3 linked regions of the Homo sapiens genome follow. The protein of the gene in region 3 purifies or fractionates together with the protein of the main gene of each other region. This does not show direct contact. Each region holds a gene or a part of one and is shown on either strand. Other genes may lie near its edges. The genes, in order: SLC25A38, NCEH1 and MFN2.

Evidence for each region.
Region 1: the proteins of MFN2 (region 3) and SLC25A38 purify together in Homo sapiens (affinity purification with western blotting; one study listed by BioGRID). This does not show direct contact.
Region 2: the proteins of MFN2 (region 3) and NCEH1 purify together in Homo sapiens (co-immunoprecipitation; one large-scale study listed by IntAct). This does not show direct contact.

What each region holds. Positions count from the first base shown.
Region 1 is NC_000003.12:39,382,127-39,386,279, reverse strand, and holds the start of SLC25A38 (mitochondrial glycine transporter), read right to left. Parts: upstream 2,911-4,153; 5' UTR 2,556-2,910; coding exon 2,487-2,555; intron 2,040-2,486; exon of another isoform or gene 1,955-2,039; intron 1,846-1,954; exon of another isoform or gene 1-1,845. UniProt on the Homo sapiens protein: Mitochondrial glycine transporter that imports glycine into the mitochondrial matrix.
Region 2 is NC_000003.12:172,631,068-172,634,720, forward strand, and holds part of NCEH1 (neutral cholesterol ester hydrolase 1), read right to left. Parts: intron 3,026-3,653; coding exon 2,408-3,025; 3' UTR 1-2,407.
Region 3 is NC_000001.11:12,011,345-12,014,062, reverse strand, and holds the end of MFN2 (mitofusin-2), read right to left. Parts: intron 2,568-2,718; coding exon 2,498-2,567; 3' UTR 555-2,497; downstream 1-554. UniProt on the Homo sapiens protein: Mitochondrial outer membrane GTPase that mediates mitochondrial clustering and fusion. Mitochondria are highly dynamic organelles, and their morphology is determined by the equilibrium between mitochondrial fusion and fission events.

The sequences.
Region 1 (4,153 bases), on a different chromosome or scaffold from region 3:
GCAAATTTGATCATGCTGCTTTCAGAAATAAAACCCTTCAATGAAAGATAATGTTTTGTGAAATTTGAAGTTACTAGCTTAAAAACAAGACCAAAAAAAAAGATGGAATAAAAATACAAGTAATGACAAATGTATTAGGAGCTACAGAGTATCCCACAAATTTGTCATTAATACTAATTGAATTATAATTTTAAAAAACCCAACCAAACCAATACCCTTTAATTGGTTCATATTCCTCTCAGGATAAAGTCCAAACTGCTGGTTGCAGGGCCTTTCATGTATCACAGGGCTCCTGCTAACCGTTTTGGCCTATGTTCTCACCCTCCCACTAACACACTCTGCAGCCATACTGGAGGACTCCGCCTTACTTTCACCTCTGAAAACTCTGACATGTTGTTATGCCCTAGCACCGGTCTTGCTCCCTAACTCCCCCATGTCCAAGTTCAGTGCCTCTCCTTCCGGCTTCTACAGCAACACCTGTCCCCATCTCCCTTATGACTGCGTGTCAAAGACAGAATAGTCACAACTCCTGCCTGTCTTGTTCATGGTGATATCTCAAGAACTGACCTCGGAGCCTGGTGCACAGTAGGTGTTCAGCAGTGACAGCGGAATGAATCTTACCACCTAACAGGAAACCTTATGCTCTCCCTTTGAGCACAATCCCACATGATAGGGCTCGGTGGGCCCTGCATGACTCATCCCAGGATGGGTTAATCTCCCCCACCTCTCTCCAGGCCCCTTGCTCCAGCAAGGCTATAGGAATGACCTGCAGTTAGTTTCTGGGCAGTTATGTTAGGCGCTGCTTCCCCAGTGCTCACACAGGTGCTGTGTGGAATTTGTTTTAAAACAAATTTGCTGCTGTCCTTGACCTTCCCACCCTTGATTGCAGGAAATATCTTCTTAACGTCTTTTATTTCACAGCACAGTGATTAGACATGTTATTGGCTCAAGTTATTGAGCCAATAACTTTTTTAGCTTTGTACTTTTCCCAGTCCATTAGCACAGAGCAGATGTTATTTATACTAGCAGTATAGATCAACTTCTAATAGGCAAAAACAAGACAACAACAACAACAAAAACCATCCCAACAGGTAATACTGAATGGTCTTAAGATTTTTGTCAATGGTGAATGGCACACATCCTTTGCGAGTGAACTTAACTTTTAAAAAGTAGCTCAAGGCCAAGCGCGGTGGCTCACACTTGTAATCCTAGCACTTTAGGAGGCCGAGGCAGACGGATCACTTGAGGTCAGGAGTTCAAGACCAGCCTGGCCAACATGGTGAAACCCTCTCTCTACTAAAAATACAAAAACTAGCCGGGCGTGGTGGCGCACGCCTGTAATCCCAGCAACGTGGGAGACTGAGACAGGAAAAATACTTGAACCCGGGAGTCAGAGGTTGCAGTTGAGCCGAGATCACGCCACTGCACTCCAGCGCGGGCGACAGGGCGAGACTCTGTCTCAAAAAAAAAAAAAAAGAAAAAAGAAAAGAAAGCTCAAAAATATATTCAAGGTAAATAAAAAAGTAGTTTCTTTTTAAGGGGAGAAAGAAGAGGGCATAAACAATAATACGCACACGAAATAAGTAGCACATAAGAGTACAAACTGGATCCACAAGCAATTCCTACTGCCCTGAAAAAACTATCCTAAGTCCAATTCACATCTGGAGGCGAGGGCTGGAGAGCCCTGAAAAAGGTAAGCAGGTTTTCAAAGACGTCAACGTAAAGTCGCCACCGCCGCCGTCTCCGCCTTTAAGGATTAAAAAAAAAAATAAAAGCCGCCCCTACCTCGGGCGCAAGACCTCAGAGGGAGAGCTGCGGCAGCTGCAGTGGCCTCAGGCCTTTAGCGTCTAAAGACTGGTTGCACCCCGACTCCACCTACCGGGCAACCACGCCGCCAGCCCCGCCTCCGCCTCCACCAATAGCGGCCCGGCGGCCCGGGCACGATGACCAATCGAACGCCGGAGGAGGCGTGGCGTCGCTGGGGGACCACGCGCCGTCCCAACAGGCTGGAAGGGTGCCGCCACGACTGGCCCCTCCAGGTAGGCCGCCGCCCGCGGGCGCACAGCGCTACCCGGCCAGCTCGCTGCGGCATCAACGGCTTCTCAGCGTCAGCGCTATTATCAGGCCTTGTGACCGTCCCAAATCTGCCCGGGTGCCCTTCCACCTGGCAGCCTACTCGCACCTTGTGGGGGCCGCGCGGGCACACTCCCCGGCACGCGTCCAGTCCAGGCCCCGGCAATTCCGCCCTTTACCGGGACATCGGCCCTACAGCGCCTGCCCCCAGGGCTGGCCTGCAGCTCCTGGCCTCTCCTCACTCCCTGCCCCCTTCTCAATTCCCTTAGTCAGACTCCTCTCCCGCCGCATCCTAAATCCTGAGCGCACCCTGGGGCGCGGAAAAGGGTAGCCGAGCCTTAGCAACGCCCCGAATTCTCCGGCCCGAGCCCGCGGTTCGGACCCCTGCCCTTCCTTCCCCGCAGTGCCCTCACCATAAGCGTTTCCACCGTGTCTCCGACATCTTGGGGTTGCAGCAGCGACGGACGTGAGTTCTGAATCATTGGAGATGAGGCCCGCGAGTCCTCTGGGCCCAGGGTGCCGTCGACGGGCGCTTGGGCCCAGCCCTGGAGGCCTTGAAGAAGGCTAGGGGGTGGCGCTAGCCAGGCGACGCGCTTTAAGCCGCGGGCTCTCTGACGTCTGCGCCTATAAGCACGCAGCCGCCGGGGTTCGGATCCTGCTAGTCCAGGGGCTGCGGGCGCGGAACAATCTTGCTGCGGGAATTACGCGCCGCTCTTCACCCGCGCCGCAGACTCCGCGGCTCTGCTCTCCTGCCCATCCTGCCCTGCTGCAGGCTTCAGCACCGTAGGAGATGAGGTTCTGTGTATCCCGGGGTGGAGGAAGCGCCGGAGGAACTCTGTAGAAGGGGAGATTTCGCTTCCGGGTGGGACGCTTGTCACGTGAGGGTGTTCTGAGTGCCACCTGGTGAAAACGCCCAGAACTGAAGGATCCGCGCTTCCTTGCACCCAGAACTTAATGGAGCGTCTGCAGGGAACTTTGCTTTTGCGTGGAACGTCTGAACGTATTTACAATCCAGACCTGGTCTGCCCAGTAAGGCAGCCACTAGCCAACGTGGGCTATTGATTTATTAATTGATACATTAATTTTAATTATATTAAAACAAGCAGTGTGGAATGCTTTCTCCTTAAACAGGCGTTTTTTTGTTTTGTTGTTTTTTTTTCAGGACCATATTTCCCTTTAAATGCTGAAAATTTAGTGTGGAATTGATATGTACTGTATGCATAAACCACACGCTGGATGTCTAAGACTGGTGAGGTAAAATCTCAATAATTTTTATATGTTGAAATGATATTTTGGATATATTGGGTTAGGTGAAATATTAAAATTAACTTCAGGCCGGGGGCAGTGGCCCAGGCCTGTAATCTCAGCACTTTGTGAGGCCTAGTCTGGAGGATTGCTTGAGGGAGCCAAGGAGTTGGAGACCAGCGTGGACGACAAAGCAAGACCCCGTCTCTAAAACAAATAATAATAACTTCATGTGTTTCTTTTTAAATGTGGCTAGTAAAACATTTAAACTTTAACATGTGGCTCCCATTACATTTCTGTAGGACAGCGCTGGTCTAGTTGGTCAAAATTCTGGTTTATTGCTCACCTGGAATCTGTCAATGGCTTTTTTGGTCTCCCAACTTCCCCTTATGCCTGTCTGGCTGATCCATGGAAAAGCATTACTGCTGGGATCCTGACACTCCTGTTGAAAATGCAGTGGCCCTGGTAATAAAGTCCAAGCTTTTCATAGCAACCTTCGCTACTTTCCACCTTCATTCATCACCCAAGAACTAGATCAGAAAGGAAAGTGACTTAGGGAGCAAGATAATATTTTTTCAGGCTTCATTCCTGTGCTTCTGAGGTACATAGAACAGGAAGGAAAGTGGTCCCAGAGGAGGTTATTCCCAGAAAGGATTAAGGAAAGTATAAACATTAAAAAAAAAAAAAAAATTACAGGCCGGGTGCGGTGGCTCACGCCTGTAATCCCAGCACTTTGGGAGGCCGAGGCGAGCCGATCACGAGGTCAGGAGATCGAGACCATCCTGGCTAACATGGTGAAATCCCGTCTCTGCTAAAAATATAGCCGGGTGTGGTG
Region 2 (3,653 bases), on a different chromosome or scaffold from region 3:
AACTAAAAGAACAATGAAACTCAAGTACATTATCAGAAACAGTGGTTGACCTCTTTTTTCCTTTACTCCCTTTTCATCTGAGAGAGCCTTTTAGAGATCCGGAATCATTTGCTGTCTGCAATTACTATAGGCTTTGGCTCACAATTCTGGGGAAAATGCCAATTGAAGGAACCCTGCCTATACATTTTATTTTCTTTTTCTTCGAGACAGACAACCTCAAAATAAGGTCCAAATATTGGTTCCTTCAAATGGTGTCAAAAAGAATAGTATTATATGAGGAGGATAGTTATCACAGAATAAGAACTAAAATCCCATTTTTTTTTTTTAGGAAAAAAAGACCTTCGATGATGCAGGTGTCTGTGTATAAGGAACTATGACCTACCAAAAAAACCACCACATAAGGAGAGGCCAATATAATTTGCCAGTCTGACAAGACAGTTGGTATTATAAGTGGAAGAGACCTCAAGGATCACATAATTCAGCTCTTTGATTTTAGAGGGAGGAAAGACGAGGCCCAGAGATGGGAAGTGGCTTGCCTAAGTACATTAGCAAGTTAGCTTCAATGGTTATTTTTATACACACACAGGCACACATACATACTGTTGCATTGACTTCTGTTTTGTACATAAAATGCTACTGGCTCATACAATACATCAATAAGTATGCAACTTTTCATTTGTTATTTCGTTGCTGGAAGTGGGAAATACCCCATCTTCCCAGGAGTGAAATGGTTCTACTTTCTCTCCGTGGTGCCCTGTATCATTACTCAGCTCTGCTGCTGCTCTCCGCAGCCCCTAAAAGTAGCATGGATCGGGGAAGAAGGAAGGACGGCAGGAAGGCAGGCAGAGATCCTCAACTCAAATCACAATTGGAGTGTCTTGTTGTGTCAAAGATGTTCCCACTGGCAGTGAAGACTTTACATGAAGTTAAGCTTGGGCTGTTGAAACTTCCAGACCTGGCTGGAAGGAGGAGATGGGGGATCTAGGCAACACCAGGTGCCAGTGTACGCCCTTCACTCAGAACATGAGCTTGTGTTCCTCTGACCCTAAAAAGCGGAGATGAGCAGTGTGTGCCTTGCCTAAGCTACTGAACTATAAACCTAGATGACTTTACTAGGCGCAGTCATAGTTTCTAATTATTTTAACTTGTATATGCATATAAACACGAAAATATTTATGCCTATGTTATAGTAGTATTAATAGCTGTTATATCATTTCCACAAAATTACACGTGGTTATAACTGTAGGGAAGGTTTTAAAACCCTAAGGCAGTTTTTTAAAAAATACCATTGTTTTTAATATTTATTATGGACATCTTTCTGAAAAACCTTAAGTCTAGCTATGTATATTAACATTAAATAACTTAAAAAAATAAACAATACATTATATTGTAGCAAAATAGCTCCATTTTAAAGCCATATAAGTGAAAAAATTGAGTTTTCAATAATAGACTAGACCTTCTAAAGGTATTTTTAACAATTTTGAACTAATATTAAATGTATTTTCTTTTTTGACTATGCCAAGTATATTCACACTGCTCTTGGTACTTTATGTCAGAAGTATTTTTATGTGAAACACTAGGTTGTTTCATTTGTCTGTTTTTACTTGCTCTATAATGAAAAGTTTACTCTAAATCTAAATAAGTTTGCTCCCAAATATCTCCCCAAGGAGAAGGGGGACAGCATAACCAAAAACACAACAAAAACCTAATGATATATAGATATCCAGTGCATGCGACTTCATATTTTCTAATAGTGGTAGAAAGTAACTTTCAAGTATTCCTGTAATCCAACTGGACTTACAGATAGCGATCTCATAAAATGAACATTCTAGAGGAAGAAAGTCCTTTGAGAAACTTGTTCTTTCCAGAAAACCTTTGCCAAAATTCCCATAGGAAACAAAACCATCCATTCACAAAAGACCAGAGGGTACTTGGTCCCCAGTACTGACCTGAAAGTGCACGCATTTAATACTGCTCTGAACTCAAGGTTAACTCTAGCAGAATTAAGGAGTCCTCGTTTTTTTAACTTATTAAAGGTCACTCTATGATCCAGAGCTGGAAGAACTGCTTCTAAAAAGAACGTCCTAATGAAGGCAGGACCCAAAGTTATTTCCAGTTCCTAGTCCTGCTTTCTGTAGCTGTAGGTATCAGTATAGTTGGCTAAGATAACAAGAACAGAGAGATTGGCCCACTCTGGGAACCAAATTTACATGTTTTGCACTTAAGTTAGTCAAATTCATTTTTAAAAATTAGGTTATCATAAAGACTTCAGTTATGGAATAGAAATTCCATAACTCGCAAGTAGAGGGGAATGGGAGGAAGAATTAGTCAACTAAAAAGTGCATGTCTTTCCAAAGCAGGTGTAGGAGGTCAAGAGGGGCTCGAGGCTTCTGGAAGTTTTGCTCCTTTACAGGTTTTGATCTAGCCACTTGATGTAACTATTCCTAGTCCGGATTCCCACTGAGAAGTTGGTGGGCCAGCTAGTGAAAATCATACATCCGTGAAAGCCATCCTCAAAGTGATCCAGGGTCACCTCCACACCGGCACTCTCCAAACGCTTGGCATACATGATGCCATCGTCTCTGAGGACATCATGCTCACACGTCAGAATGTAGGTCTTTGGGAGGAGCTGCAGCACTGCCTGGTCTGCAATGAGTGGGGCGGAGCGGGCATCCAGCAACTGAGGAAGCTCCTGGACAATCCTGGCATTGCCTGTGGTCTGTACAACAGGCTTGTAGTTCTTTGTGAAGGATGCAGGCAAGAGGGATGTCCAGTTTAGACGGGCCCTGACAGCAGCAGCCTCTTCCACATCAAGTGAAGTGTGATTGTTAACGATCATTGCCTGCACAAAGTCATAGTTGCCTTTGAAGTAGTCCACCCAATACTTCACCATGACATAGCGGGGCAGGATTGGGGTGTTCACATTTTGCTGATAAGATGGTGTGTTAAAATCTAAAGCTTGAAGAACTGGATAAATTAAAGCTTGTAGTTTGAGCTTATTTTTTAGGCTGGCATCTTGAGTAAACTAGAGAAGAGGAAGCAAATACATTATTTCATTTTGCATGCCTTCTTTTATAGGAACCATACCCTGTAGAGTAGCTTCATGTGTTACTCTGAATCTGTCAATGGTATAAGTGTTACATTTCTACCAGGCACTGTATAAATAATAAAGTTTAAAAAATAATTCTCCATCATTACCATCACCACCCTATCAAGCTGCTAGATATTTAACTAAGAAAGGTATGATGTTTACAACTCAGTTTTGAGTGAACCCTGTACTTGTATCTATCTTTAGGCAGTTAAGACACCTAGGTATTATGAATGGATAATGTGTGAACCTTATTTAATTTTTTATTCCCTACAAAACCCCCAAAAAGGTCATGGCTTCCTAGGGGGAAAAAAATTAGTCTTATTCTTCCAGAAGAGAGGGGCAGAAAAAACTTAATAAGCAGATTATGAGACTCCTGAGTGTTTAAGTAGGACCTCAGGGTATGCTTTCTGGTGAGCATCTTCACGCTTGGTGAGACAGAATTTAAATAGTTCTGGCAATGCACCCTCCATTCTACATAATGAGCATATGCCAGAGTGAAGTTGTCATGGGAATGTGAATGAATCCCCTACCTCAACAGATCTCAGTCCCCCAACACCTCCCC
Region 3 (2,718 bases):
TGGGAGACCGAGGCAGGTGGGTCACAAGGTCAGGAGTTTGAGACCAGTATGGCCAAGATGATGAAACCCTGTCTCTACTAAAATACCAAAATTAGCCAGGCCTGGTGGTCGGCGCCTGTAATCCCAGCTGCTTGGGAGGCTGAGGCAGAGAACTGCTTGAACCCGGGAGGCGGAGCTTGCAGCGAGCCGAGATCGTGCCACTGCACTCCAGCCTGGGCGACAGAGCGTGACTCCATCTCAAAAAAGAAAAAAAAAAAAAAGAATAGTGGCAACCAAATTCTCAGAAGGCAAAGCAGGATGGAACAGTGAGTCATTTACTTTTTAAGTGAAAAATGGTCTGGAGTTACAGAGAAATCTGTAAAGAAATCAGTCTCGATTTCCTGATCCTTAAAGATCAGTTAAACCATCTGTTCTTTTGAGAGTATCAAATTCCTTCCAAGAATAAGGAGCCAGATTATAGTGGGAACTTCCCCAAAGTTATGGTCACTTCAGAATACAGCTGGCCATGTCAAAGAGGAGTTTGTACAAGAACCCAAAAAGACAGATCTCACAAAGGATTTCCAACTAGGTTTTATTTTAGTTTCCAATATTATGAGCAATGATACAGGAGTAACTCAAGCAAATACATCACCTTAAATACATCAGAGAAAACTCACTGTGTCAGCACGTCTTGCGCTCCAGCAAATGAACATAAAAACAACAATGTCAGCAGCATTAAAGTGCTTTTGGCCATACTTCTTTCAGAAAGGGTCTCTCCCTCAGTGGTATAAATTTAATTTTACGTATTGAAGAAGCTCAAAATTTCATTCATTCCCCAGGGGCTACATTGAAAAAAAATTCATGTTTACGCTAAAGAATTTTTTTTTTTCAAAAAGAGCACAAAATCCATTGGAATTGTGTGACAGTGATTTTCCCTGACATGCTGTGAAGTGGCCCCTGTCCATTCAGGCCCGGCACACGCCGGGAACATCCACCCACAGCATGTCCACCTGGCAGAGTCCATCACTTCGCCCCACACAACAGGACAGACTGAGGGCTTTAAATACAAGCAGGTATGTGAACAGGACATCACCTGTGATGTGGCCACCAAACAGTGCACAGAGGCTACCAACTCATTTCCTCAAAGATGAGTGATGGCTGGGCTGCTGGGCCCCTGCCTTGTGGGCTGCTTTTTGGGAGAGGTGTTGCTTATTTCTAGGAAGCGATCCAACTTGTGCCACACAGGATTTGTCACCCAAACTGCTTTTCTCACACAGTCAACACCTTGGTGACAGGCATCTGCCCCCACTTCAACCAGTAACAATCCCAAAACTCAACATCAGCATAAAGACAAGGGGGTCAGTCGAAGGTTCTGGAGATCAGGGAGGGTGGAAAGATGGACACTGGGTTTTCCACATTGTCCCTTGGCCAACTGCAGTCACTGGCACAGGAAATTTAGTCCAGGGCACTTGGGACAAGGTTGGGGGTGGGGTGGAAACATGTCTCTTAAAGGGCACAACAGGGATGCAATCAAGCCTAGTGGGTGGGGGCTCTCAGACCCATGAGCCCCTCGCAGAACGAGGCCAAGTGGACGGCCCATTCTCCAGCTGTCCTGTGTGGGGCCCATGCACCTCAGCCAGCCACCAACGTCCCCACCTTCCACCATCCATCCTTCTACTACATCCTTCAACCACCTAGACCATGCCATCTTCCAAAACAGATCTACACAAAACAGGCCTGCACAAGTCCAGGACTGACACTAAAGCAAAGGACACAATAATGAGAAGAGAGGCAAGTCCCTCCTTGTCCCAGTGACTGCCACCTGCTCTGCCAGCTCCCCATACATCCAACAGCCCTCCCCTCTGAGCTACTCCCACTCCTCCAGCTGCCTCAGCAGCATCCTTTCTACCACCCCCAGCACAGGGCCCGCCTCAGCCTAAGCCCAGGGGTAACTGAGCCTCACCACCAAGACGTGTCTGAGGCTCTGCAAATGGGATGAAGCACTGAGCCAACAGGCGAGATGGACACACACAAGCCACAGTCCTTCTGGGACAGACTCTCTGGGAAGAAACTCCAATCGTCCCTTACACCTGCAGGTGTGCTGGGCTGCAAGGAGGGCAGGTGCGCACAGGCTGGAGGAAGGTGGGGGTGTCTGTGTGATACCCTCAAAGGCTTCCATGAGGCATTGTGCAATGCTGAGATCCTGAGGCCTTATCAAGCAATCAAATGAACCAGAGAAAGCTGGAAAAAGCCTCAACTTAACTCCTTGGTACCATGCTGTCCATAGCTGTCGCTGAAAGTGTCCTTTGGGGGTATGAGCCAGCTCTTCCAGCAACAGCAGGCAAAGGTGGGGGAAAATAAGTAGTGCTGGAGGGCTCAAAATGGTACGAGACTGGGTGCTTCATTCTCTTGGCAGTGGCCAGGGGGCAGGAGCCACACGTGCCCCTGGGGGAGCCCACATGGCACTTAGGGCTGGCAGCACCGCCCCTCTCCACGCAGACTCCGCCTCAGGTGCCCACTATCTGCTGGGCTGCAGGTACTGGTGTGTGAACATGTTGAGCTCACTGTCCAACCAACCGGCTTTATTCCTGCAAAGAAATGGTTCTTTTGTAACCATGATAGCTGATGATAGGCAGTATTAGGACTACCCGCCAGGCACCATCCTAAGGACGCTTGACACACACCCTTACATCATCCTCCAACAATCGTGTTTATCCCTGTCTCACAGATGGGGAAAAG